Regions from separate parts of the Homo sapiens genome. Here region 2 is linked to region 1. The links come from fine-mapping of genetic effects on plasma protein levels. A gene starts in region 1. The other region holds a variant in brackets. All regions are shown on one strand. Distances are between the middles of the regions.

Region 1 (13,330 bases):
GGGATTACAGGCATGTGCCACCACGCCCGGCTAATTTTTGTCCTTCTAGTAGAGACGGAGTTTCTCCATGTTAAGTAGGCTGGTCTCCAACTCCTGACCTCAGGTGATCCGCCCACCTCAGCCTCCCAAAGTGCTGGGATCACAGGCGTGAGGCTAATCGTTTTAAATTTTTATTTTGTAGAGATAGGATCTGGCTATGTTGCCCAGAGTGATCTCCAACTCCTGGGCTCACGGGATCCTCCCACCTTGGCCTCCCAAAGTGTGGGGATCACAGGTGTGAGCCAGAGTGCCCGGCCACCCCTTTATCCCAAACACACCAAAAAGCAGGCTGCTCTTCCCTGAAGGCAGTAGCACATTGATCAAATCGGCCAGTGGGCACTGACACTGCTGCACACAAATGCACACACTTGCACCCTGCCCCAGGCCCCACCGGCCACCCTGGTTCCACAGACGGCACCGTTTCTCCCATTTCCTCTCACCAGGGACCTCGACAGGTGTGGGCTTGGTTCCGTGAGCTCTCTTAGCCCCTTTTTCAATTCAGGATCCCGTCCCCGTGAACCCTGGGGGCCTCGGCAAACATGAGACGAGAGGACTCCTAAAGGAATGACACGCGCCACTCCCTCCGGGGCAGAGAGGTGTGTTGACAGCTCATTCTCACGTCCCAGGCAGACCAAGCCCAGGTGGACCACGTCCCAGGCAGACCAAGCCCAGGTGGACCACGTCCCAGGCAGACCAAGCCCAGGCGGACCACGTCCCAGGCGGACCACGTCCCAGGCGGACCACGTCCCAGGCGGACCAAGCCCAGGCGGACCACGTCCCAGGCGGACCACGTCCCAGGCGGACCAAGCCCAGGTGGACCACGTCCCAGGCGGACCACGTCCCAGGCGGACCAAGCCCAGGTGGACCACGTCCCAGGCGGACCATGTCCCAGGCAGACCACGTCCCAGGCAGACCAAGCCCAGGCGGACCACGTCCCAGGCAGACCACGTCCCAGGCGGACCAAGCCCAGGTGGACCACGTCCCAGGCAGACCAAGCCCAGGCAGACCACGTCCCAGGTAGACCTAGTGGTTGTGTATTCACTTCTCCCAACCCCCCTGGGAAGAAATAACTGCAGCTGGCCCCATTGCACCAATGAGGAAACTGAGGCCCAGGGAGGAAGCCGATTGCCTGAGGCGGCAGCTTTGGGACTGGACTGTGGCTGCCTCCTGAGGAAGGAAACAGTTCCTCCCTCCACCCTCATCCTGGCAGGGGTTGGGCCACCGTTGCTTCATCAAGTGTCGTGGAGCCTCCGCTCTGTGCCAGGAGCGGGGCCTGTGCCACAAACGTCTGCTGAAACCAGCCATCCACCCAACAGTATCGAGCACCATGATCGGAAGAGTAAAGGCCCCAAACTGGGCCAGGGGCGGTGGCTCATTCCCGTAATCCCAGCACTTTGGAAGGCTGAGGCGGGTGGATCATTTGAGGTCAGGAGTTCGAGGCTAGTCTGGCCAAAATGGTGAAACCCATCTCTACTAACAAAAAAAAAAAAAAAAAAAAAAAAATGGCCGGGTGCAGTGGCTCATGCCTGTAATCCCAGCACTTTGGAAGGCCGAGGTGGGTGGATCATCTGAAGTTGGGACTTCGAGACCAGCCTGACCAACATGGAGAAACCCTGTCTCTACTAAAAATACAAAGTTAACCAGGCATGGTAGCAGGCATCTGTAATCCCAGCTACTCGGGAGGCTGAGGCAGGGGAATCGCTTGAATCTGGGAGGCAGAAGTTGCAGTGAGCCAAGATCTTGCCATTTCACTCCTGCCTAGGCAACAAGAGCAAAACTCCATCTTGTTAAAAAAAAAAAACTAGCCGGGCATGGTGGTGCCTGCCTGTAATCCCAGGTACTCGGGAGGCTGAGGCATGAAAATCACTTGAACCCGGGAGCAGAGGTTGCAGTAAGCTGAGATTGCACCACTCCACTCCAGCCTGAGAGACAGAGTGAGTGAGAGACTTCACCTCAAAATAAATAAATAAAGTCCCCAAACACACTTGATTTTAGCCCAGCAAGACTCATGTCTGTTGCGGGAAGTCAGGGACCCCGAACGGAGGGACCGCCTGGAGCTGTGGCAGAGGAACATAAATTGTGAAGATTTCATTTTAATATGGACATTTATCAGTTCCCAAATTAATACTTTTATAATTTCTTACGCCTGTCTTACTCTCATCTCTTAATCCTGTTATCTTCGTAAGCTGAGGATGTATGTCACCTCAGGACCACCGTGATAATTGTGTTAACTGTACAAATTGATTGTAAAACGTGTGTTTGAACAATATGAAATCAGTGCACCTTGAGAAAAAACAGAATAACAGCGATTTTAGGGAACAAGGGAAGACAACCATAAGGTCTGACTGCCTGCAGGGTCAGGCAAAAAAAGCCATATTTTTCTTCTTGCAGAGAGCCTATAAAAGGACATGCAAGTAGGGAGGATATCGCTAAATTCTTTTCCTAGCAAGCAATATTAATATTAATACCCTGGGAAAGGAATGCATTCCTGGGGAGAGGTCTATAAACAGCTGCTCTGGGAATGTCTGTCTTACGTGGTTGAGATAAGGACTGAGATACGCCCTGATCTCCTGCAGTACCCTCAGGCTTACTACGGTGGGGAAAAACTCCACCCTGGTGAATTTGTGGTCAGACGTTTCCCTATTTTTTGTTCAAGATGTTTATCAAGATAATACGTGCACCGCTGAACATGGACCCTTATCAGTAGTTCTGTGTTGCCTTTTCTCCTGTTCCCTCAGAAGCAAGTGATCTTTGTTCTGTTTTTTGCCCTTTGAAGCATGAGCTCTACTCCATGTTCTCACACCCCCTCCCCTCTTGAAACCCTTAATAAAAAACTTGCTGGTTTAAGGCTCAGGGGGCAGCACGATCCTACCGACATGCGACGTCACCCCCCGGCGGCCCAGCTGTAAAATTCCTCTCTTTGTACTCTTCCTCTTTATTTCTCAGCCAGCCGACACTTATGGAAAATAGAAAGAATTTATATTGAAATATGGGGGGAATGGGTCCCCCCGATACATGTCAGATTTCTTTTATTTATTTATTTATTTATTTATTTATTTATTTATTGAGATGGAGTCTCACTCTGTCGCCCAGGCTGGAGTGCAGTGGTGCCATCTCGGCTCACTGCAAGCTCCGCCTCCCGGGTTCACGCCATTCTCCTGCCTCAGCCTCCCGAGTAGCTGGGACTACAGGCGCCCGCCACCATGCCCGGCTAATTTTTTGCATTTTTAGTAGAGACGGGGTTTCACCGTGTTAGCCAGGATGGTCACGATCTCCTGACCTCGTGATCCACCCGCCTCCACCTCCCGAAGTGCTGGGATTACAGGCGTGAGCCACCTCACCTGGCCTTATTTATTTATTTTTTTTGAGACGGGGGTCTCGCTCTGTTGTCCAGGCTGGAGTGCAGTGGTGCGAACTCGGCTCACCAAAACCTCTGCCCTCCAGGTTCGAGCAATTCTCCTGCCTGAGCCTCCTGAGTGGCTGGGACTACAGGCACCCGGCACCACACCCAGCTAATTTTTGTATTTTTAATAGAGATGGGGTTTCACCATGTTGGCCAGACTGGTCTCAAACTCCTGACCTTAAGTGATCTGCCTACCTCAGCCTCCCAAAGTGCAGGAATTACAGGCGTGAGCCACTGCGCCCAGCTGTTTTGTTTTTTGAGATGAAGTCTCACTGTCACCCAGGCTGGAGTGCAGTGGCGCGATCTTGGCTCACTGCAGCCTCCGCTTCCTGGGTTCAAGTGATTCTCCTGCTTCAGCTTCCCGAGTAGCTGGGATTACAGGAGTGTGCCACCTCGCCCGGCTAATTTTTTTTGTATTTTTAGTAGAGACGGGGTTTCACCATGTTGGCCAGGCTGGTCTCAAACTCCTGACCTCAAATGATCTGCCCGCCGCAGCCTCCCAAAGTGCTGGGATTACAGATGTGAGCCGTGGCACTTGGCCAGTGGGGTTGCTTTAGGGCCCAGCTCACACCGCACCCGGCTGATGGGGTTGTTTTAGGGCCCAGCTCACTTCCCAGTGTTCCCACACCGCCCACCAGGCCAGGCCTTCAGGCCTGAGCCATGTTATCAGCATCACAGGCTCCGGAGTCCAGCAAGTCTTTGCCTCCTGGAGCCCAGGGGTTGGCAAGTTCTAGCTCAGAGGCTGCAGACAATAGACAGTAAGCCAATGCCAAGTATCTTTGGGCTCAGGAAGGTGGGACCGGGTGTCCCTGACTGTTCTGTACCAAGCCACAACCCGCTTCCCATCCTGGAGGCCGAAGGTGGTACCGCAGGGTGAGCTCCCTAGAGCCCCACAGAACACGCTGCTCTGGGTCCTAAAGGCTCTCCTTGCATGAATGCAAACCTGCTGACTACAAAGATGGTTATTATTATCAGCTCCAAGGTACAGAAACTCGGTTTAAACTGGCTTCATCTCCCTGCGGAGGAGGAGTTCAGGCACAGCTGGATCCAGGGACCTCCAATGTCACTGGGAATTGTTGCTGTCCCCTTTGGCTCTGTGGCCCACGGGGCTGGCCTCTCCCTAGCCATCAGAAAGAGCCACCTGCAATTTCAGGCTCACACCTCTCCAGCCCCAGCAGGAAGCAGGTGTCCCTGTCCCTCTCCCAGCAAAATTCCAGGGCCGTTGGCCAGGCGTGGTGGCTCACACCTGTAATCCCCGCACTTTGGGAGGCCGAGGCCGGCGGATCATGAGGTCAGGAGTTCGAGACCAGCCTGGCCAATATGGTGAAACCCTGTCTCTACTAAAAATACAAAAATTAGCCAGGCGTGGTGGTGGGCGCCTATAGTCCCAGCTGCTCGGGAGGCTGAGGCAGGAGAATCGCTTGAACCTGGGAGGCAGAGGTTGCAGTGAGCTGAGATCACGCCACTGCACTCCAGCCTGGGCAACAGAGCAAGACTCCATCTTAAAAAAAAAAAAAAATTCCAGGACTGACTCGTCCTGGTGGTTTTGTGTTTTTTTTGAGACAGAGTCTCACTCTGTCACCCGGGCTGGAGTGCAGTAGTGGGAGCAGAAAGGGGGAACCAGCCCCAGGCTGGCCCTCGTCGTGTGGTCCATGGGAGGCACAGGGGTCCTGGAAGCTTCTGAACCTGGTGCTGACCCTAGTCCTGACTCTGCAGGTCTGTGTGACTCCAAGAAAATCACTTCCCACCCTCCAACCTCATCCCTATAAATGGGGCGCCTGCCTCACAGCCTCCCAGCAAGCAGCAAAGGGGACTCACCATGGTCCCGTTCTGCACGAGCACCCATTGACTGGGTAATTAACAGGAATCTATGCACGCCATGGCCCTACTGTGCGCCTGGCACTGTCCACATCCCACCTGGAACCTCTAACACTGGGGTCTGTGCCCATGTTACAGATAAGAAAACAGGCATAGGCTGGGCACGGTGGTTCACGCCTGTAATCCCAGCAATTTGGGAGGCCAAGGCAGCTGGATCGCCAGAGGTCAGGAGTTCGAGACCAGCCTGGCCAACATGGTGAAACCCATCTCTACTAAAAATACAAAAAATTAGCTGGGTCTGCTGGTGCATGCCTGTAATTCCAGCTACTCAGGAGGCTGAGGCAAGAGAATTGCTTAAACCCGGGAGGCAGAGGTTGCAGTGAGCCGAGATTGCGCCACTGCACTCCAGCCTTGGCAACAAGAGCGAAACTCTGTCTCAAAAAAAAAAAAAAAGAAAGAAAAAGAAAACAGGCCTAGAAGGGTCCCAGGGCCTGGCACACAGTGGGCACCCACGGCTGCTATAACAAATTTGCACAAACTGCCTGGCTTAAAGCAACACACGGGCTGGGCGCAGTGTCTCATGCCTGTAATCCCAGCACTTTGTGAGGCCAAGATGGGCAGATCACCTGAGGTCAGGAGTTTGAGACCAGCCTGACCAACATGGCAAAATCCCGTCACTGCAAAAAAAAAAAAAAAAAGTAGCCGGGTGTGGTGGGAGGCGCCTGTAATCCCACTTAGTCTGGAGGCTGAGGTTGCAGTGAGCCGAGATCGCACCTCTGCACTCCAGCCTGGACAACAGAGTGAGGCCCTGTCTCAAAAAAATAAAAATGGCCAGGCATGGTGGCTCACACCTGTAACCCCAGCACTTTGGGAGGCCAAGGCGGGTGAATCACTGAGGTCAGGAGTTCAAGACCAGCCTGGCCAACATGGCGAAACCGCGTCTCTACTAAGAATACAAAAATTAGCCAGTTGTGGTGGCAGGTGCCTACAATCCCAGCTACTCGTGAGGCTGACGCAGAAGGATTGCTTGAACCCGGGGGCGGAGGTTGCAGTGAGCCGAGATCGCGCCATTGCACTCCAGCCTAAGCAACAGAACGAGACTACGTCTCAAAAAAAAAAAAAAAAAAGTTCCACACGGGTCTGGCTGGGAGAAGATCGAGGTGTTGGCAGAGCTGCATTCCTTCTGGCAGCTCCAGGAGAGAATCTGTTCCGCGCCTTTCCAGGCTCCTAGAGGCCGCCCACATTCCCTGGCTTGAGCCCCCTTCCTCCATCTCCAAATCCCGCAATGGCAGCCAAGTCCTTCTCTTATCCTGTCTCTAACCATAGAGGGCAGGCGTCTCCTTTTTTTTTTTTTTTTTTTTGAGACAGAGTCTCGCTCTGTCACCCAGGCTGCAGTGCAGTGGCACGATCTCGGGTCACTTCAACCTCTGCCTCCCAGGTTCAAGTGATTCTCCTGCCTCAGCCTCCCAAGTAGCTGGGATTACAGGTGCACAATACCAGGCCCACCTAATTTTTTTGTATTTTTAGTAGAGACGGGGTTTTACCATGTTGGCCAGGCTAGTCTCGAACTCCTGACTTCAAGTGATCCTCCTGCCTCGGCCTCCCAAAGTGCTGGGATTACAGGCGCACACCACCAGGCCCACCTAATTTTTTTGTATTTTTAGTAGAGACAGGGTTTTACCATGTTGGCCAGGCTAGTCTCGAACTCCTGACCTCAAGTGATCTGCCTGCCTCGGCCTCCTAATGTGTTGGAGGTTCACAGGTGTGAACCTAATGTGTTGGTGGTTCACAGGTGTGAACCACCGCGCCCGGCCAGGCATCTCCTCTTCTACGGACCCTTCCAGGACAGTGGGCCATCCGTATAACCCAGGATGAACCCCTGTGTGAAAGCCCTCAACTCAGTCCCATCTGCAGAGCCCCTTTGGCCAGGGAGGGTGGGACACCCACGGGTTCTAGGGATGAGGGCCCCATGGTCTCTGGGACCGCCGTTCTGCTGACCACCCCCCACTGCTCTCCCCCTCACTCACAGCACAAGCGTCTGTTTCCAGCGCACACCCCTGCCGCTCCGTCTGACGTTCGAGTCTCAACCTCAACGTCTCTTTCCTCTGGGAAGCCTTCCTCAGTCTCCCCCAGGCCCGGGTCAGGCCTGGGGCACCTTTGCCATCTGGGCATCCTCCGCCACAGAACAACACTGGATTGTCACTGTCTGTTTACCTGTCAGGATGTACCTGGAGGGAGACAGAAGCCTGGGGGGTGAGCAGAGGCCACGAGGAGCCACGGTGGGTGTCTGAGCCAGGGAGAAGTGTTATGGCAGCTGGGGTAGGAAGTGGGCCGCAGGGGCCAGGCTGCGGGCTGGAAGTCCTAGGATGAGCCTCGGGCCTGGATAGGGTGGGGAGAGGGGCAGAGCCGGGAGAGGGGAGGTCATCACTGGGGTCTCAGGAGGAGGCGGCGCTCTGGAAAGGGTCAGTGACCTGTTAGAGGTCACCCTGCACAGAGCCTCTGGGTTAGGGAAGACAGAGCCGGGAGCAGGAGGCCACTGGCAGCTGGCCTCGGTTTCCCCGGAGAGGGCCGGAACCCACGCCAGCCAGACAATGACCCTTTGATTCGCACAGCCCAGGCCGGAGTGGCCAAGCCACGGCGGGGTCAGGTCTTGGCCAAGGTCACACTGTCCAGCCCCCGCACATCCTCAGTGAGAACACAGGGTCCCATCCCTGCCCCACTCCCCAATCCCGGGAGAGTCCCGGGGGAATGCCAGAGGCCAAGGCCAGGTCGAGACGGCGGGGTGTCCCCCGTCAGTGAGAACACAGGGTCCTGTGCCTGCCCCACTCCCCAAGCCGGGGAGATTCCCGGGGGAAATGCCAGAGGCCAAGGCCAGGTCGAGACGGCGGGGTGTCCCCCCTCAGTGAGAACACAGGGTCCCGTCCCTGCCCTGCTCCCCAAGCCGGGGAGATTCCCGGGGGAAATGCCAGAGGCCAAGGCCAGGTCGAGACGGCGGGGTGTCCCCCCTCAGTGAGAATACAGGGTCCCGTCCCTGCCCTGCTCCCCAAGCCGGGGAGATTCCCGGGGGAAATGCCAGAGGCCAAGGCCAGGTCAAGACGGCGGGGTGTCCCCCCTCAGTGCCACTAAGGCAGAACTTGGCCCCTGGCCACTGGCTGCTGGGGGACACAGGCTGGGCAGCTAAGGTGGAGGAAAGGGTACAGGTGTGTCTTCTGTGGGCACAGATCTCACTCAGGCCAGAGAAGGGGCTGTGCCGTGGGGCTGCTGGACACGTCCGTTTCCACCTGCGGGGTGGGCAATGCCGGCACAGCGAGTGGCCAGACACAGGCATGCCCAGCAGACACCCAACCGCTCTCCACCACCTCAACCTTCTGTATTTTCCTGAAAGCATTTACCACTCCTTGAAGTTATAGATTAATTTGTCTCTGCATTTTGTTGTCCAAACCAGGAGCTCGGTGAGGGTGTGATGGGGTCTGCCTTGGTCACCGTGGCACCCCAGCACCCCGCAGGGTCCCTCTGGCCAAAAGAGATGTTCACTGATGCCCTAGAAGCAGGAACAGAGGGGCTCCCCTGCGCTCGCCAAGGGCGCCTGACAAATCTGGAGGCCCCCATGACAGAATCAGCTCCAGAGTAGGAAATGTGTCTGGCTGCACGAAAGCCCCCTCGGGCGCAGCGCCTCCAGGCCCACGCAGATGTCGCTGTCATACATTGTTGGAAACGCCTCTGCTGGAAACAGTGTTTGCTGAATCTTGGAGGGAGAGGAAAAAACCTAGTAAACATTCTTGTTGAGGTGATCTGGGGGAATGTCTGCAAAGGCTTGGAGGGCTGATGGGGCAGAGCTGCCCAGGGGCCCAGGACAAAGGCCAGGCGTGCGCGCGCACACACACACACACACACACACACACACGCAGTGGCCTCCCTGGGGGCCGTGGCTGGGCGAGGCCTGCTGTTGTCCGAGATGCTGGAAGGAGCTGTGTCTCTGGGTCTGTCCCGGCCGCACCCCGTTCTGTCCCACACCCAACCACTCCCCACCCACAGGCCGGCTCCAGCGGCCAGGTGGACGGGTGCGCGGCCCGCGCTGTGAGCAGGGAACCATATCCAGCTGAGGTTTTGGGTGTGTGGGGCGGGTCGGGAACAAGGAGGCCGGGTTGGGGGGCTCAGACCACACTTGGACCATGAAAGTGACCACATGCAAATCACAGAAACGGGATGCAGGGATCCACAGACGTGCTCCTCTTGGGTCCCCGTTACCTCACCGCCACCCCTGAAACTGAAGACCCCCAAACCCACTTTAATTCCTGGAGACGGCCCCTCGATCCACCCAAAAGGCTGCCACCACCTCGAACCCACACCCCTGTCCCGGTTCCGCCCTGGGTCCAGCCACATCTCCCCAAATGCATTCTCTGGCTCCGGAAGGGGACCCGGGCGCTCGCCCCCAACTGCCCCCCGCAGCGGCCGGGCCCGGCGCCTGCCCACCCCGCGCGGGACACGGCCTCGCCCCCGCCACTCCCGCGCCGCGCCCCGCCCCGCGCCCCGCCCCGCCCGCGGCCCGCGGGACCTTTATAGGGAGCGCCGGCCGCGCGCTGGGAAGTCGGTGCCGCTGCCGTCTCTGCGTTCGCCATGCGTCCCGGGGCGCCAGGGCCACTCTGGCCTCTGCCCTGGGGGGCCCTGGCTTGGGCCGTGGGCTTCGTGAGCTCCATGGGCTCGGGGAACCCCGCGCCCGGTGAGTGGGGCGGCCAGAGGGGCGGGCGGGGCGGGCCACCCACGTGGGGCTGCGCGGAATGCGGCCGGGGGGACGTCGGGGGGCGCGGCGGCGGCGGCGGGGGCGAGGGCGGTGTCCGGCGCAAGCTGGAGCCGGGAAGGTCTGAAGGAGGGTCACCAAGAGGTCAGCAGAGCAGAGGTTTCTAATCACAATGACCGCTGACATTTATTGAGCGCTTAGTGTCTACCTCTCCCCTCCCTGAACCTGTGCCATCCCGATAGTGCCGGAGCTCTCTTCATCTCCGTCTTCCAGATGGGGAAACTGAGGCTCAGGGTCACACAGCCTGTAGCAGGCAAAGCCAGGGTTCTAGCCGCGACCGTCCGGGTCGGTCCTGGTGCCGAGAGGTAGTGCTGGGTGTCGGGAGCCAGGCCCTCCAGCTGGGGCTGAGAGCTTTCCCGGGTCCTGGGTAGACGGGGCATGGAGTCTCACACCTGGGACTTGCCGGGAGGTGCCAGGCAGGAGACGGCCCCACTCCTGGCCTCAGTTTCCCCTCCTATGATGGGTGCCAAGGTGCTGCGTTCCACAAGCTGGTCCCTGGCAGTGTCTGTGAACCAGCAAGCGCTCTGGGATGGGGGCTGTGGCCGTTCCTGCCCCCAGGGACGGGGGAAGAAATGGGGGGCTCTCTGGCTCCCCACCCCCCATCCCTGCAGCCCCACCCCACCCCAGCCCTGCGCCAAAGGGAGAGCAGAGCCCCCTCCCCGAAGGCCACGTCCCTGGGGAGACAGTGAGCTCATGCAAGGGGAATGTTCCCAAGTTGGAGTGAGTAAGAGGCGGGCCAGGCGGTGGGGGGGCTGCCAGGCGCGGGGCTCCGCGTGCCCTCGCCCTCGGGTGCTGTCTAGACAGAGGGCAGAGGCGGGAGAAGCGGCTCCAGGGCCTGCTGACCCTGACATGCCCAGTGCCTGGTGTTTGGTGGTGTTTGAGGGGTTGGGCAGGGTGCCAGCCCCTGGCCTGGGGGCTTGGAGGGTACGGGAAGGGACCTCCTGGGGTGGGTGGGGGTTGGTGGTGAGGCTGTGGGGGGGGGCACGTGGAGCTCAGAGGGGAGGAGACATTTCCAGGGTTCTGGAGCCAGGGTGGGGACACCCATGTGGTTTTCTGCCCCTTCTTCCTGGGTGGGGGTAGATCATTCCGTGCGTAACTACTCAGCACCACCTGCATGCATCTGTGGGCGGGCCAGAAGCTGGGTGTCAGGAGTGGCCCAGGAGAGCACCCCGTTCCCCGGCCCGCAGGTGGTGTTTGCTGGCTCCAGCAGGGCCAGGAGGCCACCTGCAGCCTGGTGCTCCAGACTGATGTCACCCGGGCCGAGTGCTGTGCCTCCGGCAACATTGACACCGCCTGGTCCAACCTCACCCACCCGGGGAACAAGATCAACCTCCTCGGCTTCTTGGGCCTTGTCCACTGCCTTCCCTGCAAAGGTGAGACCTCAGGCCAGAAGCAGGGCAGACGTCTCAGCTCAGGACCAGCCACAAACAGTCATGGTGGTCGAGGGCCGAACGTCCAGGGACTGAGCCCGTCACAGGGGTATGTAGGAGGCTGCAGGGGGATCCCAGCCTCAGAGAGGGACTGGGGGGACTTCCCGGTTCCCAGGCTCCAGCCTCTTGCAGCTCAGGACTCAGGAAGAGACCACGTGGCTCCAGCCTTTGCTGGGGCTGAGCTCTCTGCCTGGGTGGCTCTTCCCACCTGGTCGATAAATGTCTGGCTTGCACCTAGCTCCTGGGAAGGTGGGTTTGCCATTCTGGCCTGTGACCCCAAATGTCCACACCAGGGACCTTCACTGCAGACTCCAGGGTCTGCGGTGGGGTTACAGCTGCATGTTTAACAAGCATTTGCCTCGGGACCCTGTTTTGAGAGGATGCCTCCCACATCAGACTAGGGGCTCTTGGTTGGCGAGTGGCACAGAACGAATGAATAAGATTCTCCGCACTGGAGGATGATGGTTTTTTTTTTTTTTTTTTTTTTTTTTCCTGAGATGGAGCCTCGCTCTGTCACCCAGGCTGGAGTGCAGTGGTGCGATTTTGGCTCACTGCAACTTCGGCCTCCGAGGTTCAGGTGATTCTCTTTCCTCGGCCTCCCCAGGGGCTGGGACTGCAGGCGCGCGCCACCACACCTGGCTAATTTTTATGTTTTTGGTAGAGACAGGGTTTCACCACATTGGCCAGGCTGGTCTCAAACTCCTGACCTCAAGTGATCTGCCAGCCTTGGCCTCCCAAAGTGCTGGGATTACAGGCGTGAGCCACCATGCCTGGCCTGTTGGGGCACATCTTGAAGGAGGTGGGCATTAGAGCTGGGGTGTTGGGGGATGTCTAGGAGTTTGCCAGATGGGGCCGGTATGGGAGAGTGGATCAGGAGAGAACATGGCTTGAGGTTAGGTCCTGGTGGGTGGGGTCAGGCAGAGGAGCCAAGGGGAGGCTGAAGCTGAGGGCTGCAGACCCGAAGGCCAGGCTGAGGAACTCTGCTGGCCTCTGAGATGTGATTAATCCCAGATCAGCCTGGCTGGGTGGTCCTGAACTCACTGCCACATACCCCTGCTCCCTCCAGACCCCCCTCTGGCTTCTGGGAGAAGGACAGTCTTCAAAAAGTGCCTGGCCTGGGCATGAGACGGCCCAGGACCCCCCACCCCCAACCTCATCTGGCCCTGGGGACGGAACTCAGGCCCCCTTCCGTTCTCGCTCGCATAAAAGCCACCCTGGCCGAGCATTTCCAGATGTGCCTGTGAGCCGCTGTGCCGGGGCCGCCCAGGTGCGGCCCACATGCCCTGCAAGGGCTGCGTGGCGGGCGCTGGCCATCCCCTAAGGAGTGCCGCACTGCCTTGGAAGTGGGGCTCCCTCGTCAGCCCCACTTTACACACAGAGAAACTGAGGCTGGCACATAAACTCAACAGCTGTGTTCAGAGGCCCTACCAGACCCCCAGATAACAGAAAGGGGGTTGGTCATCTGGGTCCTGGCTGCAGCTTTCAAACTGAGGTGCTTGGGCCCCTGCACTCATAGCTGCGACCCGGCCTCAGTTTCCCCATCTGTAAAATGATGACTTGGGAAGATGCGATAAGCCTAGGAGGCGATGAGCATTCACATTGAAAGCGGGGGCGGGGACCCCAGAGAGAGCTTCCCTAGCAGGACCTCAATATCCCTGTCTGAGCAGCGGGGCTGCGGGGCAGCTCCTGGTTCAGAGGCCTAGGGCTGTGGGGGGCCCCCTCCCCTGGAATCGCTCCCCAGGCCAGGAGGGCCGTCCAGCGCCCCGCCCTCCCCGACGCCTCCTGGGGGAAGGTCCTGGCAGCCCCAGACTCGCGCCTGGCAAGGGCGGAACACCCCAGGCT
Region 2 (14,700 bases), 18 kb after region 1:
CTGGGAGGCAGAGGTTGCAGTGAGCCGAGATCGCACCACTGGACTCCAGCCTGGGTGACGGAGTGAGACTCTGTCTCAAAATAATAATAATAATAATAATAATAACAACAACAACAACAAAAAGGCCCAGCGCGGTGGCTCACCCGCGCCTGTAATCCCAGCACTTTAGGAGGCCAAGGCTAGCGGATCACGAGGTCAAGAGATCGAGACCATCCTGGCCAACATGGTGAAACCCCATCTCTACTAAAAATACAAAAAATTAGCCGGGTGTGGTGGTACATGCCTGTAGTCCCAGCTAGTTGGGAGGCTGAGGCAGGAGAATGGCTTGAACCCAGGGGCAGAGGTTGCAATGAGCCGAGATTGCGCCACTGCACTCCAGCCTGGTGACAGAGTGAGACGTCATCTTAAAAAAATAATAGGCCGGGCGCGGTGGCTCACGCCTGTAATCCCAGCACTCTGGGAGGCCGAGGTGGGTGGATCACGAGATCAGGAGATCGAGACCATCCTGGCTGACACGGTGAAACCCCGTTTCTACTAAAAATACAAAGAATTAGCCGGGTGTGGTGGCGGGCGCCTGTAGTCCCAGCTACTTGGGAGGCTGAAGCGGGAGAATGGTGTGAACCCGGGAGGCGGAACTTGCAGTGAGCCGAGATCGCACCACTGCACTCCAGCCTGGGGGACAGAGCGAGACTCCATCCAAAATAAAAATAAGTAAAGATAAAAAAATAAAATAATAATAAAGAAAATAAAATCTAAAAATAAAAAAATAATAACACAATAACAAACTGTGACAATAACATCACCTGGGACTTGCTGTGCACCCCGCGCTATTCTCTGGTTTTCAGAGGATGACCACGAGGCTTGATGTGTGGCCAGACCCTCTTGGGACTCCTCGGCGCGGCCGGTGCAAGCCCGCCCTGGTGTCCAGCAGCCCCCACGCCCTGCACAGGGAGCTCAGGGCTTCCTGGCCTCCGTTTCCCAGCGGACTCGCCTGCGGTGTGGTTAGGCGGCTGGAGGGAGGTGGAGGAACGGCATTCCAGGTGGGAGGCTGCAGGAGTGTGGGTTGCAGGGGCGCAGGGGTAGACCCAGAGGGGTTCACGGTGGGGGGCATGGGAAGGTGGAAAGGGGCTGCGGACCGAGCCGCGACACGAATGCCGGTGGACCCTGCAGCTGACCGCCCACGGGTGAGGCTGGAAGTCAGTTAACATTTTACTGGGTTTGCTTCTGCCCTTTGCATGTGGAATGGGTGTGCCCCACCGCTGCCCGTCCCACCCCAACCCTGAACATCAGGCTTCCCGTGGGGCCCAGCCACGGAACATTCCAGGCCTGGAGCGGCCATCTCATTTGCATGCCGCAAGGTTGTGGCTCAGGCGGCTTCTCCTGGGGGCCTGGTGGTCCCAGGCAGGGGGCCGGGCTGGGGACTGCTCCGCCGAACCACGTCCCAGATCCAGGCCACAAAGGCGGACACCTGCGTGTACACGTCGGGGGTCTTGGGGTCGCCGCACCAGAGGCCCGAGAAGGAAACGAGGCCGTGAGCCCGGTTCCTGCACACCAGGGGCCCTCCGGAGTCGGCCTGGAGTGAAAGGAGAGGTGAGGTCAGGGCCTCTGGGAGCTGCTGCAGGCACATCTCACCACGGCCCTCCCTGCCTCAGAACCCTCTGTGGCTCCCTACTGCTCTCCAAGGAAAAAGTAAATTCATTTCTCCCCTCCAGGCCCTGAGGACCCAGCCCCCACCCACTTCTCTGCCCTCCCCGCTGAGCCTCCTCAGTGCTCCACGGCCTTTGTATAGCCTGGAGACCTGTTCCTGCCCTGCGCTGGATGCTGCCTGTGTGAACATTCGAGTCTGCAGTGTTTTGGGCAGTGCACAACCTACACAGCTGTACGCGGCAGCCCTCTACTAACAGGTCTCTCTGCCTTGCGTGTGTTTCCTCAGATCTTCTAAGGATTCCTTCAAGTCTCAGCTCAAAGGTGCTCTCCTTGGAGAGGGCTCCCCGTATACTCACCCTAAAATCCCTCATCCTACCCTCCTGCCATCTAGAATCCGCTCTGATACCATCAACTGGATACTAATAGTGTAGCAGTTTTACAGATGGAGAAAAAGAGGCCCAGAGAAATCAAGTGACTTTTCCAAGGTCACGCATCGGGAAAGTGGACAGTCTCATTTCTCCTGGACTCGGGCTGCTGGGCTAAGTGTGTGTCCTGAACCAAGTCGCTCTCTTGCCTGCGGTAAAAGACCCTCCAGGGCCAGTGTCTCCCTTGGCACCTGGGGATTCGTTTATCTGGCAAGGTTTTAGGAGTGGGAGCTGCTTCCTCTCAATCTGTTACTACCCTCTACTGAATACTGCTTGTATAAATACACAAGTGCTTGGCTCTTTGTGCAGTGCGCAACCTGCACAGCTGAACATGGCAGCCCTGCATGACCCTTGCCAACTCCCTGCCTTCCCTGGGCCTCAGCTTCTCCGTCTGGTCCAACATCAATGGGACTCAGTTCCCAAGGCCCTTCCTGGCCCTGACCCTCTCTGTGGGCCTTGGTTTCCCCACACAGTAAGTGGGTGGAGCAGGGAGGGGATCTTACCGAGCAGAAGCCCCGTCTGTGGCTGTCCCCACTGCGGGTGCAGAGCATGGTAAGTGTCAGGTGGCCCTTCCAGGAGCTGTTGCAGACGTCCGGGTCCAGCACTCGGACCTTGGCCTCCATCAGTCCAGGCGGCAGCTCCTCAAAGTCAGACACGAAGCCCCAGCCAGCCACCCGGCACCGTGTCCCCGCTGTGGGGGGCCTGGCCCTTCTCCCTGGCGGCCTCAGCAGCCCCACTGCAGGGCCCAGGACAGCAGAGCCGTTCAGCTGCAGGGAGAGCATGAGTTCAGGCCACTGGGCTCCCTCCCCACCCCCGCTCCTGCCTCAGTTTATCCATGGGACCCCTGGTCCTGCCCTTGTGAAGCAAAATCAATGGCGGCCACCATGAGGCCGGGTCAGGAGGCCCCGTTCCTTCTGCCAACACAGGCCCCTACCCCTCAGGCCTCCAGGGTCACCGTCAGCTGCCCAAAGGGTCTTTCTGTTCTGTTCTTTTCTTTTTTTTGAGATGGAGTCTCGCTCTGTCGCCCAGGCTGGAGTGCAGTGGCACAATCTTGGCTCACTGCAACCTCCACCTGCCAGGTTCAACCGATTTCTCCTGCCTCAGCCTCCCAAGCAGCTGGGATTACAGGCGTGCACCACCACACCTGGCTAATTTTGGTATTTTAGTAGAGACGGGGTTTCACCCTGTTGGCCAGGCTGTTCTCAAACTCCTGACCTCAGGTGATCCACCCACCTCAGCCTCCCAAAGTGCTGGGATTACAGAGTGAGCCGCCGCGCCCAGCCTCAAAGAGTCTTTCAAACTCCATCTCCTTCCTTACTCTAAGCCCTCCCACGGCTCCCGATTGCCCTCAAGACAAAACCTCTTTGCTCACCAGCCAGGGCCTCTGAGGGCTCTCCAGCCTCAGCCTCCCCTTTGGCCAGGCAGGATGAATTTACAGCTACTCCCTGGGCCTGCCACACACCTCCCCTCACACCAGACCCCCAGCCTGAAACACTTTTCCTATTCAGCCATCTCAGCATGGATGCCACCTCTTCCAGGAAGTCTTCCCAGACTCCCAGGCTGGCACGTGAGTCTTCTCTGGGCTCCCTGCAGCCTGTTGAGGCCGGTTTACCCAGTGAAGACTGAGTGACACCCCGGGCTCTGTGTGGCCCAGCACCGGGCCTCTGGCCCTGGCCCTGGCAATTGGCACACAGCTGATGCTCAGTTAATGGGCCTGGGAAGGACGGCTCCAATCCCTGTCTCTGGTTCTCTGATTTGTGCGTCTTGGGTTCATTCCTGACATTCTTGATGTCTCGCTCAGCCTCAGTTTCCCCATCTGTGCGATGGCCTCTGGGTGAACCAGCGCTGGTTCCAGGCTTCAGGGTTTCACAGATGAGAAAAATTCACCCAAAAGCTTTGGCTACTGGCACTTGCTCCTCCTCCTTTTTTTTTTGTTTTTTTCAGAGTCTTGCTCTGTTGTCCAGGCTGGAATGCAGTGGCGCAATCTCGGCTCACGGCAACCTCCGCCTCCCGGGTTCAAGCGATTCTCCTGCCTCAGCCTCTGGAATTTAATTTTGGGATGCTGGGTAGAAGCGTCAGGGAAGGGGTCGTCCCTCGAGCAGGAGGGGGCCAGGCGGGTCTGCATGGATGCACCACGTGTGGGAGGAGCAGCTTCCCACCCGGAGGACTCCACCCAGGGACTTTTTTTTTTTTTTCAGATGGAGTCTCACTCTGTCACCCAGGCTGGAGTGCAGTGGCACGATCTCGGCTCACGGCAACCTCTGCCTCCCAGGTTCAAGTGATTCTCCTGCCTCAGCCTCCCGAGTAGCTGGGATGACTGGCACCCACCACCAGGCTCAGCTAATTTTTTTATTTTTAGTAGAGATGGGGTTTCACCACGTTGGCCAGTCTGGTTTCAAACTCCTGACCTCAAATGATCTACCCGCCTCGGCCTCCCAAAGTGCTGGGGTTACAGGTGTGAGCCACCACGCCCGGCCCCACACAGGGACTTTAAGCGTCTCCTCCACACAGGGCAGGGGCCCGAGAGGCACATTCATTCCATTTCAGCATAAACTTTGAGCGCCTGCTGTGTGCCATAAATGGCCATAAAGGTGATAAAAAATCCCTGCCCGTTAGGTTCAGAGGAAGCGGGAATGAGGAAGCGGGTGGTCCAGGGGTTAGCAGGTGACAAGCAGGTGACGACGGGGCCGGAAGGGTGGTCCAGGGGTTAGCAGGTGACGACGGTGCTAGAAGGGTGGTCCAGGGGTTAGCAGGTGACGACGGGGCTGGAAGGGTGGTCCACAGGTTAGCAGGTGACGACGGGGTGGTCCAGGGGTTAGCAGGAGATGACGGGGCCGGAAGGGTGGTCCAGGGGTTAGCAGGTGATGACGGGGCTGGAACAGGGTTGCAGGGAGGGGGTATGTGGTCCAGGGCGGCCTCCTGGGAAGGTAACATTTGAGCAAAGACTTGACAGGCGTGAGGGGAAAGGCTCGCGGTGTCTGGGGAACTGGTGCACTGGGTACAGCTGGTGCAGAGCTCGGAGCGGAGACTGTGCTGGGGATGGGATGGCCCATCCGGGAGGTCTGCTGGCCTCGAGTCAGAAAGGTGACAGGCATGGATTAGCAGGGCCTGTGGGCACCAGGAGGATTTGTCCTGCAGGAGGTGGGAGCCACTGGGGGGTCCAGGGCACAGGAGGAATGGGACCTGACGTCCAACTGTCTTTAAAACCTAAGTCAGGCCAGGCGCAGCAGCTCAGGTTTGTAATCCCAGCACTTTGCGGGGCTGAGGCAGGAGGATTGCCTGAGTCCAGGAGGTCAAGACCAGCCTGGGCAACATGGTGAAACCCCGTCTCTACTAAAAATATAAAAATTCGCCTGGCGCAGTGGTACACGCCCGTGATCCCGACACTTTGGGAGACCAAGGTGGGCGGATCACTTGAGGACCGGAGTTAAGACCAGCCTGGCCAACATGGTGAAATCCCATCTCTACTAAAAATACAAAAATTAGCCAGGTGTGGTGGTGGGTGCCTGTGATCCCAGCTACTCGGGAGGCCGAGGCAGGAGAATCGCTTGAACCCGGGAGATGGAGGTTGCAGTGAGCCCTGACTGTGCCACTTTACTCCAGCCCAGGTGCCAAAGTGAGACTCCGTCTCAAAAAATAGGCCAGGATTGGGAGGCAGAGGTGGGCGGATCACGAGGTCAAGAGATCGAGACCATCCTGGCAAACATGGTGAAACCCCATCTCTACTAAAAATACAAAAATTAGCCGGGCGTGGTGGCGGGCGCCTGTAATCCCAGCTACTCGGGGGGCTGAGGCAGGAGAATCGCTTGAACCTGGGAGGCAGAGGCTGCAGTGAGCCGAGATCGTGCTACTGCACTCCAGCCTGGGGACACAGGGAGATACTGTCT[G/GAA]AAAAAAAAAAAAATAGCCCAGGGCTGCTTCTCCTGGAAAACACTAAACGGCGGATGACGTCGGTGCAGTGGGGCGGCCCTGGGATGGGGAACGGCGCTGGCTTCCCCCGAGGCTTCGGCACTGGCTTCCGGGCTGGGGCCGCGGAGCTCACAGAGGCAAGACAGAGGATAAGGAGTAGACGCCTGTCACCAAGCTGGGCCGCCTGGTCAAGGACATAAAGATCATGTCCCTGGAGGAGATCTGTCTCTTCTCCCTGCCCATCAAGGAATCTGAGATCATTGACCTTTTCCTGAGGGCCTCTCTCCAGGACGAGGTTTTGGAGATTATGCCGGTGCAGAAGCAGATCCGCACCGGCCAGCGCACCAGGTTCGAGGCGTCTGTTCCCACCGGGGACTACAATGGCCACGTCGGTCTGGGTGTTGAGTGCTCCAAGGAGGTAGCCACTGCCATCATCGGGGCCGTCATCCTGGCCAAGCTCTCCGTTGTCCCCATGCACAGAGGCTACTGGGGGAACAAGATCGGCAAGCCCTACACCGTCCCTGGCAAGGTGACAGGCCGCTGCGGCTCTGCGCTGGTGTGCCTGATCCCCGTGTCCGGGGCGCTGGCATCGTCTGGGCGCCTGTGCTCAAGAAGCTGCTCATGATGGCTGGTATCGGTGACTGCTACACCTTAGCCAGGGGCTGCACTGCCACCCTGGGCCACTTTGCCAAGGCCGCCTCTGATATCCTCTCTAAGACCTACAGCTGCCTGACCCCTGACCTCTGTATTCCCCAAGTCTCTCTTTCAGGTATTCACTGGCCATCTTGTGAAGACTCACACCAGAGTCTCCGTGCAGACGCCCGGCTCCAGCTGTGGTTACAACATAGGGTTTTATACACGAAAAATAAAGTGAATTAAGCCTGGAAAAAAAAAATGGCCAGGCACGATGGCTCACGCCTGTAATCCCAACACTTTGGGAGGCTGAGGTGGGTGGATCACTGGGTCAGGAGTTCGAGACCAGCCTGGCCAACATAGTGAAACCCCATCTCTACTAAAAACACAAAAAACTAGCCAGGTCTGGTGGCGAGTGCCTGTAATCCCAGCTACTTGGGTGGCTGAGGCAGGAGAATCACTTGAGCCTGGGAGGCGGAGGTTACAGTGAGCCGAGATGGCGCCATTGCACTCCAGCCCCCGTGACAGTTCGAGACTCTGACTCAAAAAAAAAAAAAAAGAAAAGAAAAGAAAAGTAGGCCGGGCTCGGTGGCTCACGCTTGTAATCCCAGCCCTTTGGGAGGCCGAGGCAGGTGGATCATTTGAAGTCAGGAGCTTGAGACCAGCCTGGCCAACATGGTGAAACCCCGTCTCTACTAAAATACAAAAATTAGATGGGCTTGGTGGCGCGCACCTGTAATCCCATGTACTTGAGAGGCTGAGGCAGGAGAATCACTTGAACCCGGGAGGCTGAGGTTGCAGTGAGCCGAGATTGCGCCATTGCCCTCCAGCCCGAGCGACAGAGCGAGAGACTGTCTCAAAAACTAAACATACGTCAGATCCACCCCCGGGGCTCACCCGCAGCAGGCAGATGTCGTTGGCGTGGGTCATGGGGTGGTAGTCGGGGTGTGTGGTGAGAGCATCGATGCCAAACACCTGCTGGGTGGGCTCCGCAGTACTCAGGACGTGGGCGCCCAGCACCACCAGGCCAGTGCGGAGGTCTCTGCAGGGAGGAGGTGGTGGGTGAGACGGGGGTGAGGGCTGCCCGTCCTGGGCCTCGGTCCACTCATCTATGAAACGGAGGCCCAGGCCGGGCACGGTGGCTCACGCCTGTAATCCCAGCACTTTGGGAGGGTGAGGAGGGTGGATCACCTGAGGTCGGGAGTTCAAGACCAGCCTGATCAACATGGAGAAACCCCGTCTCTACTAAAAATACAAAATTAGCCAGGTGTGGTGGCACATGCCTGTCATCCCAGCTACTCGGGAGGCTGAGGCAGGAGAATTGCTTGAGCCTGGGAGGCGGAGGTTGCAGTGAGCTGAGATTGCACCATTGCACTCCAGCCTGAGCGACAGAACAAGACTCCGTCTCAAAAAAACAAAAAAAAAACAATTACTTTTGCATCAACTTAATATTCTTTTCCTTTTTTCTTTTTTTTTTTTTTTGAGACAGAGTCTCACTCTGTCCCCTAGGCTAGAGTGCAATCGAGGCTTACTGCAACCTCTGCCTCCTGGGTTCCAGTGATTCTCCTGCCTCAGCCCTCCAAGCAGCTAAGACTACAGGCGTGCGCCACCACTCCCAGCTAATTTTTGTATTTTCAGTAGAGACAGGGTTTCACCATGTTGGCCAGGCTGGTCTCGAACTCCTGACCTGAAGTGATCCACCTGCCTCGGCCTCCCAAAGTGCTGGGATTACAGGCGTGAGCCACGGTGCCCAGCCCCCAACTTAATATTATGATAATAAATTAATAATTATGTTTATTATTTTTCCTACCTCCAATATAGAATTAACTGCAATAGTTGTGGTATTAATTTGAATCATTATTATAAAAACATATTTAGAATGAAGATAATACTTATTATATTTATTATAAGTTCTATTTCAATTATAATATTAACTACAGTAATTTCAATATTCTCCTTTTTTTATTTCTTTAATTTTTTTTTTTGAGACGGAGTCTCGCTCTGTCACCCAGGCAAGATTGCAGTGGTGCAATCTTGGCTCTCTGCAAGCTCCACCTCCCGGGTTCACGCCATTCTCCTGCCTCAGCCTCCTGAATAGCTGGGACTACAGGCGCCCGCCACCATATCCGGCTAATTTTTTGTATTTTTTTTTAGTAGAGACAGGGTTTCACCGTGTTAGCCAGGACAGTCTCGATCTCCTGACCTCGTGATCCGCCTGCCTCGGCCTCCCAAAGTGCCGGGATTACAGGCGTGAGCCACCGCACCCGGCCTTTTTTTTTTTTTTTTTTTTGAGACAAGGTCTCACTCTGTCACCCAGGCCGCAGTGGTGTGATCACAGCTCACTGCAGCCTCGACCTCCCAGGCTCAAGCGATCCTCCCACAGCAGCCTTTCAAGTAGCTGGGACCACAGAAGCACAGCTCCGGTGCGGAGGACTCTGCGGGGAGGAGGGGGTGGGTGAGATGGGGGTGACGGCTGCCCGTCTGGGCCTCAGTCCACTCATCTATGAAATGGAGGCCCAGTAATCCATTTAATGCTCACGCCGGCCCCGTGATAATATTAGGTTGGTGCAAAAGTAATTGCACGAAAAAAATTAAATGGCAAAAACCACAATTAACTTTTTTTTTTCCGACAGAATCTCACTCTTTCCCCTAGGCTGGAGTGCAGTGGTGCCATCTCGGCTCACTGCCACCTCCACCTCCTGGGTTCAAGTGATTCTCCTACCTCAGCCTCCCGAGTAGCTGGGGATACGTACAGCCACTTGCTACCATGCCCAACTAATTTTCGTATTTTTTTTTTGAGACAGAGTCTCGCTCTGTCCCCCAGGCTGGAGTGCAGTGGCGCGATCTCGGCTCACTGAAAGCGCCGCCTCCCGGGTTCACGCCATTCTCCTGCCTCAGCCTCCTGGGTAGCTGGGACTACAGGCGCCTGCCACCACATCCGGCTAATTTTTTTGTATTTTTAGTAGAGATGGGGTTTCACTGTATTAGCCAGGATGGTCTCGATCTCCTGACCTCGTGATCCTCCTGCCTCGGCCTCCCAAAGTGCTGGGATTACAGGCATGAGCCACCGCACCCAGCCTAATTTTCGTATTTTTAGTAGAGACAGAGTTTCACCATGTTGGCCAGGCTGGTCTCATACTCCTGACCTCAAACAATCCACCGTGTCCCAACGTGAGGGGGACTGCAGGCTGGCGGGGGAGCTGGGGACACTGCAGCCCAGGACCAACCTATCCCGTGCCTGGTGGGGGCTCCTGCAGGAGGGGACCCACCCACCCTGGCCCCAATATACATTTTAATAGTTATTATAACAATATGTTTAAAACGAGGCAGGGCATGGCGGCTCACACCTGCAATCCCAGCACTTTGGGAGGCAGAGGCGGGTGGATCATTTGAAGTCAGGAGTTCGAGACCAGCCTGGCCAACATGGTGAAATCCAGTCTCTACTAAAAATGCAAAAATTAGCCAGGTGTGGTGGTGGGCGCCTGTGATCCCAGCTACTCGGGAAGCTGAGGCAGGAGAATCGCTTGAGCCCGGGAGGTGGAGGTTGCAGTGAGCCGAGATTGCACCGTTGCACTCCAGCCTGGGGAACCGAGACTGCCTCAAAAAAAAAAAAGAACATAGTGACAGTTACAGTAACAGAATATGTACTTGTTGCGCCTGTTGCTTCTTCTGTGCTTCTTTTGCCTCCCTGCCTTATCCTCCTGTTTTCCCTTTGTTGCCCTTTAAATCCAGCCCCTGCTGAGACTCCCCCTCCTGCAGGAGCCACGGCGCCCCCAGCTCCCCCACCAGCCTGGAGTCCCCCTCATGTCGGGATACGGTGTCCAGAAAGAAGGGGCCCGACAGGTGAGCTCACCTGTGGCTGAAGCAGTGGGCGGCCGAGACCACCCAGCGGGCTCGCAGCAGGAAGCCTCCGCAGTGATGTTGGCCCCCGAAGCGCACGGATGCCATGTAGGGCCTGGAGTGGGGGGTCACCTCGTGGCCCCCGATGATCTGGGCCCCCCAGGAGCCTGCTGGAGGGACGGCCTGAGTCAGGGACGAGGCGGGAGGAACGGATGACGGGGCTGGGGTCAGGGCAGGGGGAGAAGTAGCGGCCAAGACAGAGACAGGGGGTGAGATTAGAGACGGAGAGACCCAGAGAGCTGGAGACAGAGCCCAGACAAGCCCCCCAGATGCGCTGGGAGGGGCTCCCGAGCCCGGGAGATCCAGGGCTGGGCTGGGCAGAGACCCCGGCCGGATTTCCATCCATTTCCAGCAGAGGCAGCCACGGGGGCTCGGCAGATGGAGCAGGTGGAGCTCTCCCCAGGGTTCTCCCGGGACTGGGGGTTCCCGGGTGTGGCCCCCGTACGGGGACTTGGCGGGGGCCTGGGTGGGGATCCCGGGGGGCTCCTCACCGGGGGGCTTCACGGGCAGCATCAGGGCGGTGGCCACAGTCAGCAGAGGACGTCCCCAGCCCCTCAACCCGAGCCCCATGGCAGACGCAGGCTGGCGTCTCCCCGCAGAGGTCTTCGGGCCGTGGCTCCCACCCTCAGCCAACGGCCGGAAAGGGGGAGCCTGGCTGTGGCCTGTGGTCGGGAGGCCCCACCAGCAACGCCTGGAGCCCAGGCGGGCGTTTCTGAGAAATCGATGGTCTCAGGTGGTGGCTGGTAATAATCATGTTGATAATAATCATTGTCCCCTAGTCCGGAAACAGGGAGAGGAGGAGACAGCTCTGGGGCTGCAAGTGACCTCGGGAAGGCAATTGACCCTTCTGTGCCTCAGTTTACCCAGCCTCCACGTGGCCCAGCATGTGTGGGGAGCTTTCCGAGGAACCGAGGTCACAGCGGCACTCGAGACCCGCAGCTCGCCTCCGGCCCCCACCCCGCAAACCCCAGTCTTCCCATCTCCAAACCCAGGGCCGACCTCAGGGCTGTGGGGACAGCGAGGAAGGCCGGTCTCCTGGGAAGCTCTGATGATTTCTGCCTTTATTTTATTTTATTTTTATAGGTGGGGTTTTGCTATGTTGCCCAGGCTGGTCTCGAACTCCTGGGCTCCAGCGATCCTCCCTCCTCGGCCTTCCAAAGTGCTGAGATCACAGAAGACAGCCACTGCACCTGGCAGATTTCTGCCTTTATTCAGCAGTTATTGAGTGCCTAGTGTATACCAGACCTCATGCTAGGAGGTGAGGATGAGGCAGTGACCGCACCCCAGCCTGTAGCACTGACGTTCTGTGGGATCCGGAGTCCAGTGGGACATGGCTGTACATGGGGGTCTTCACCTTTTTTTTCTTTTCTTTTTTTTTTTGAGATGGAGTCTTGCTCTTGTTGCCCAGGCTAGAGTGGAATGGCACCATCTCGGCTCACCGCAACCTCTACCTCCCGGGTTCGAGTGATTCTCGTTCCTCAGCCTCCCGAGTAACTGGAACTACAGGCGCCCGCCACCACAGCCGGCTAATTTTGTTTCTGTATTTTTAGTAGAGACGGGGTTTCACCATATTAGCCAGGATGGTCTCGATCTCCTGACCTCATGATCCGCCCGCCTCGGCCTCCCAAAGTGCTGGGATTACAGGCATGAGCCACGGTGCCCGGCCTTTTTTTTTTTTTTTTTTTTTTTGAGAAGGAATCTTGCTCTTGTTGCCCAGGCTAGAGTGCAGTGGCGCGATCTTGGCTCACCGCAACCTCTGTCTCCTGAGTTCAAGGGATTCTCCTTCCTCAGCCTCCTGAGTAACTGGGATTACAGGTGCCCACCACCACGCCCCGCTAAATTTGTGTGTTTAGTAGAGACGGAGTTTCTCCATGTTGGTCAGGCTGGTCTCGAACTCCCGACCTCAGGTGATCCACCTGCCTCAGCCTCCCAAAGTGCTGGGATGACAGGCCTGAGCCACCGCGCCCAGCCCGGCAGGTCTTCACCTTTCAGTGGGAGCGTTCTTAGTGGCAAAGTTCAGGTCGTAAATTGCAGCTCACACAGCCGGGTGATGGCGTTCACGGCAGTGGCTAGCAGTGGGGTGCTCGTCAGCGCTTAATAATGAACAGGCTGGGGCCGGGTGCAGTGGCTCACGCCTATAATCCTAGCACTTTGGGAGGCCGAGGCAGGTGGATCACCTGAGGTCAGGAGTTCAAGACCAGCCTGGCCAACATAGTGAAACCCCGTCTCTACTTAAAGTACCAAAATTAGTCAGGCGTGGTGGCAGGTGCCTGTAATCCCAGCTACTTGGGAGGCTGAGGCAGGAGAATCGCTTGAACCGGGAGGTGGAGGTGGCAGTGAGCCAAGATTGCACCATTGCACTCCAGCCTGGGTGACAGAGCGAGACACCATCTCAAAAAAAAAAAAAAAAAAAAAGTCATCATTGAACGCTCCAGACCTGTGTTTTACCAAATGTAAAGTGTTCTCAATAAAGAATGAAGTGAAATGAAGCAACAGGAAATGCGTGGAAAGGAAGGTATGAAAAGGCCCCACAACGAACTCGGGCTCTGCGAGATGCGGGCGGCCTCTGGAAGCTAAAAAACGGCAGGAAACGAATTTTCTCCTGGAGCCTCCGGGAAAAGCCAGCCCTACCGATGCCCTGACGTTAGCCCAGAAGGGCCTGCAGGGGCTTCTGACCTCCAGCACTGCCAGAGAATAAATTGGTGCCATTTCGTTTATTATTATTATTATTATATTTTCTTGAGATGGAGTCTCGCTCTTTCGCCTAGGCCAGACTGCAGTGGTGCGATCTCGGCTCACTGCAAGCTCCGCCTCCTGGGTTCATGCCATTCTCCTTCCTCAGCCTCCCAAGTAGCTGGGACTACAGGTGCCCGCCACCACGCCCGGCTGATATTTTGTATTTTTAGTAGAGATGGGGTTTCACCACGTTAGCCAGGATGGTCTCAATCTCCTGACCTCGTGATCTGCCTGCCTCAGCCTTTCAAAGTGCTGGGATTACAGGTGTGAGCCACCGCGCCCAGCCTCATTTATTATGTATATATTTATTTTGAGACAGGGAGACAGGGTCTTGCTCTGCCGCCCACGCTGGAGTGCAGCAGTGCAATCAAAGCTCACTGCAGCCTCGACCTCCTAGGCTCAAGCCATCCTCCCACCTCAGCCTCCCAAGTAGCTGGGACCACAGGCACCTGCCACCACCAGGCCCGGCTCATTATTTCATTTTTTGTGGAGACGGGGTTTTGCCATGTTGCCCAGGCTGGTCTTGAACTCCTGGCCTCGAGCAATCCTCCAGCCTCGGCTTCCCGGAGTGCTGGGATTACAGGTGTGAGCCACCATGTCTGGCCCAAGTTGGTATCATTTTAAACCACTACGTTTCTGGGAATTCGTTACAGCAGCTGCAGGAAAGATTTTGGGAAATGGAAAGCTGTTTCCAGGGCCTGGGGACAGGTGGGACCCCAGCTCAGGGTCCGTGTACTTGGGGACCATTTCCTGCTCTGCTGTGGTCTACTGGACCGTCTGGCATCGCTGTGACCGCATGGGCCGTGCTCCATCAATATTGTTTTTTTGTGTGTGGGTGTTTTTTTTTTTTTTTTTAGATGGAGTCTCGATCTGTCGCCAGGCTGGAGTGCAGTGGCGTGATCTCAGCTCACTGCAACCTCAGTGTCCCGGGTTCAAGCGATTCTCCTGCCTCAGCCTCCCCAGTAGCTGGGACTACAGGCGTCTGCCCCCACGCCCGGCCAATTTTTTGTATTTTTAGTGGAGATGGGGTTTCACCATGTTGGCCAGGCTGGTCTTGAACTCCTGACCTCGTGATCCGCCCGCCTTGGCCTCCGAAAATGCTGGGATTACAGGCATGAGCCACTGCGCCCGGCCCTGTTTTTATCTTTTAGAGACAGGGTCTCCTTCTGTCGCCCAGGCTGGAGTGCAGTGGTTTGATCTCGGCTCACTGCATCCTCTGCCTCCTGAGTTCAAGCGATCCTACTGCCTTAGCCTCCCAAGTAGGTGGGATTACAGGTGCCTGCCACCACGCCCGGCTAATTTTTGTGTTTTTTTGTTTTGTTTTGTTTTATTTGTTTGGTAGAGATGGGTTTTGCCATATTGCCCAGGCTGGTCTCAAACTCCTGAGCTCAAGTGATCGGCCTGCCTCGGCCTCCCAAAGTGCTGGGATTACAGGCGTGAGCCATCGCACCCG

The links. PIP is the chance, under the fine-mapping model, that this variant and not a neighbour inherited with it causes the effect. Protein levels are from antibody-based Olink assays in UK Biobank. Linkage for the fine-mapping came from a reference panel and not from the study's own genotypes, which makes the PIPs less certain.
Region 2: its variant is fine-mapped to the plasma level of the FSTL3 protein (UK Biobank, PIP above 0.99).

What each region holds. Positions count from the first base shown.
Region 1 is chr19:666,547-679,876 of GRCh38, forward strand. It overlaps FSTL3 (follistatin like 3), which reads left to right and starts at 9,846. Exons shown (of 5, transcript NM_005860.3): 1 at 9,846-9,980; 2 at 11,246-11,431. The coding sequence starts at 9,878. RefSeq lists an enhancer at 12,200-12,702 and a silencer at 13,157-13,330.
Region 2 is chr19:684,350-699,049 of GRCh38, forward strand. PRSS57 (serine protease 57) reads right to left here and starts at 11,103. Exons shown (of 5, transcript NM_001308209.2): 1 at 11,003-11,103; 2 at 10,465-10,618; 3 at 7,509-7,653; 4 at 2,576-2,839; 5 at 1,197-1,573. The coding sequence starts at 11,081. The coding sequence ends at 1,367. It also overlaps the pseudogene RPS2P52. The variant G/GAA (reference allele first, on the strand shown) is at 5,960.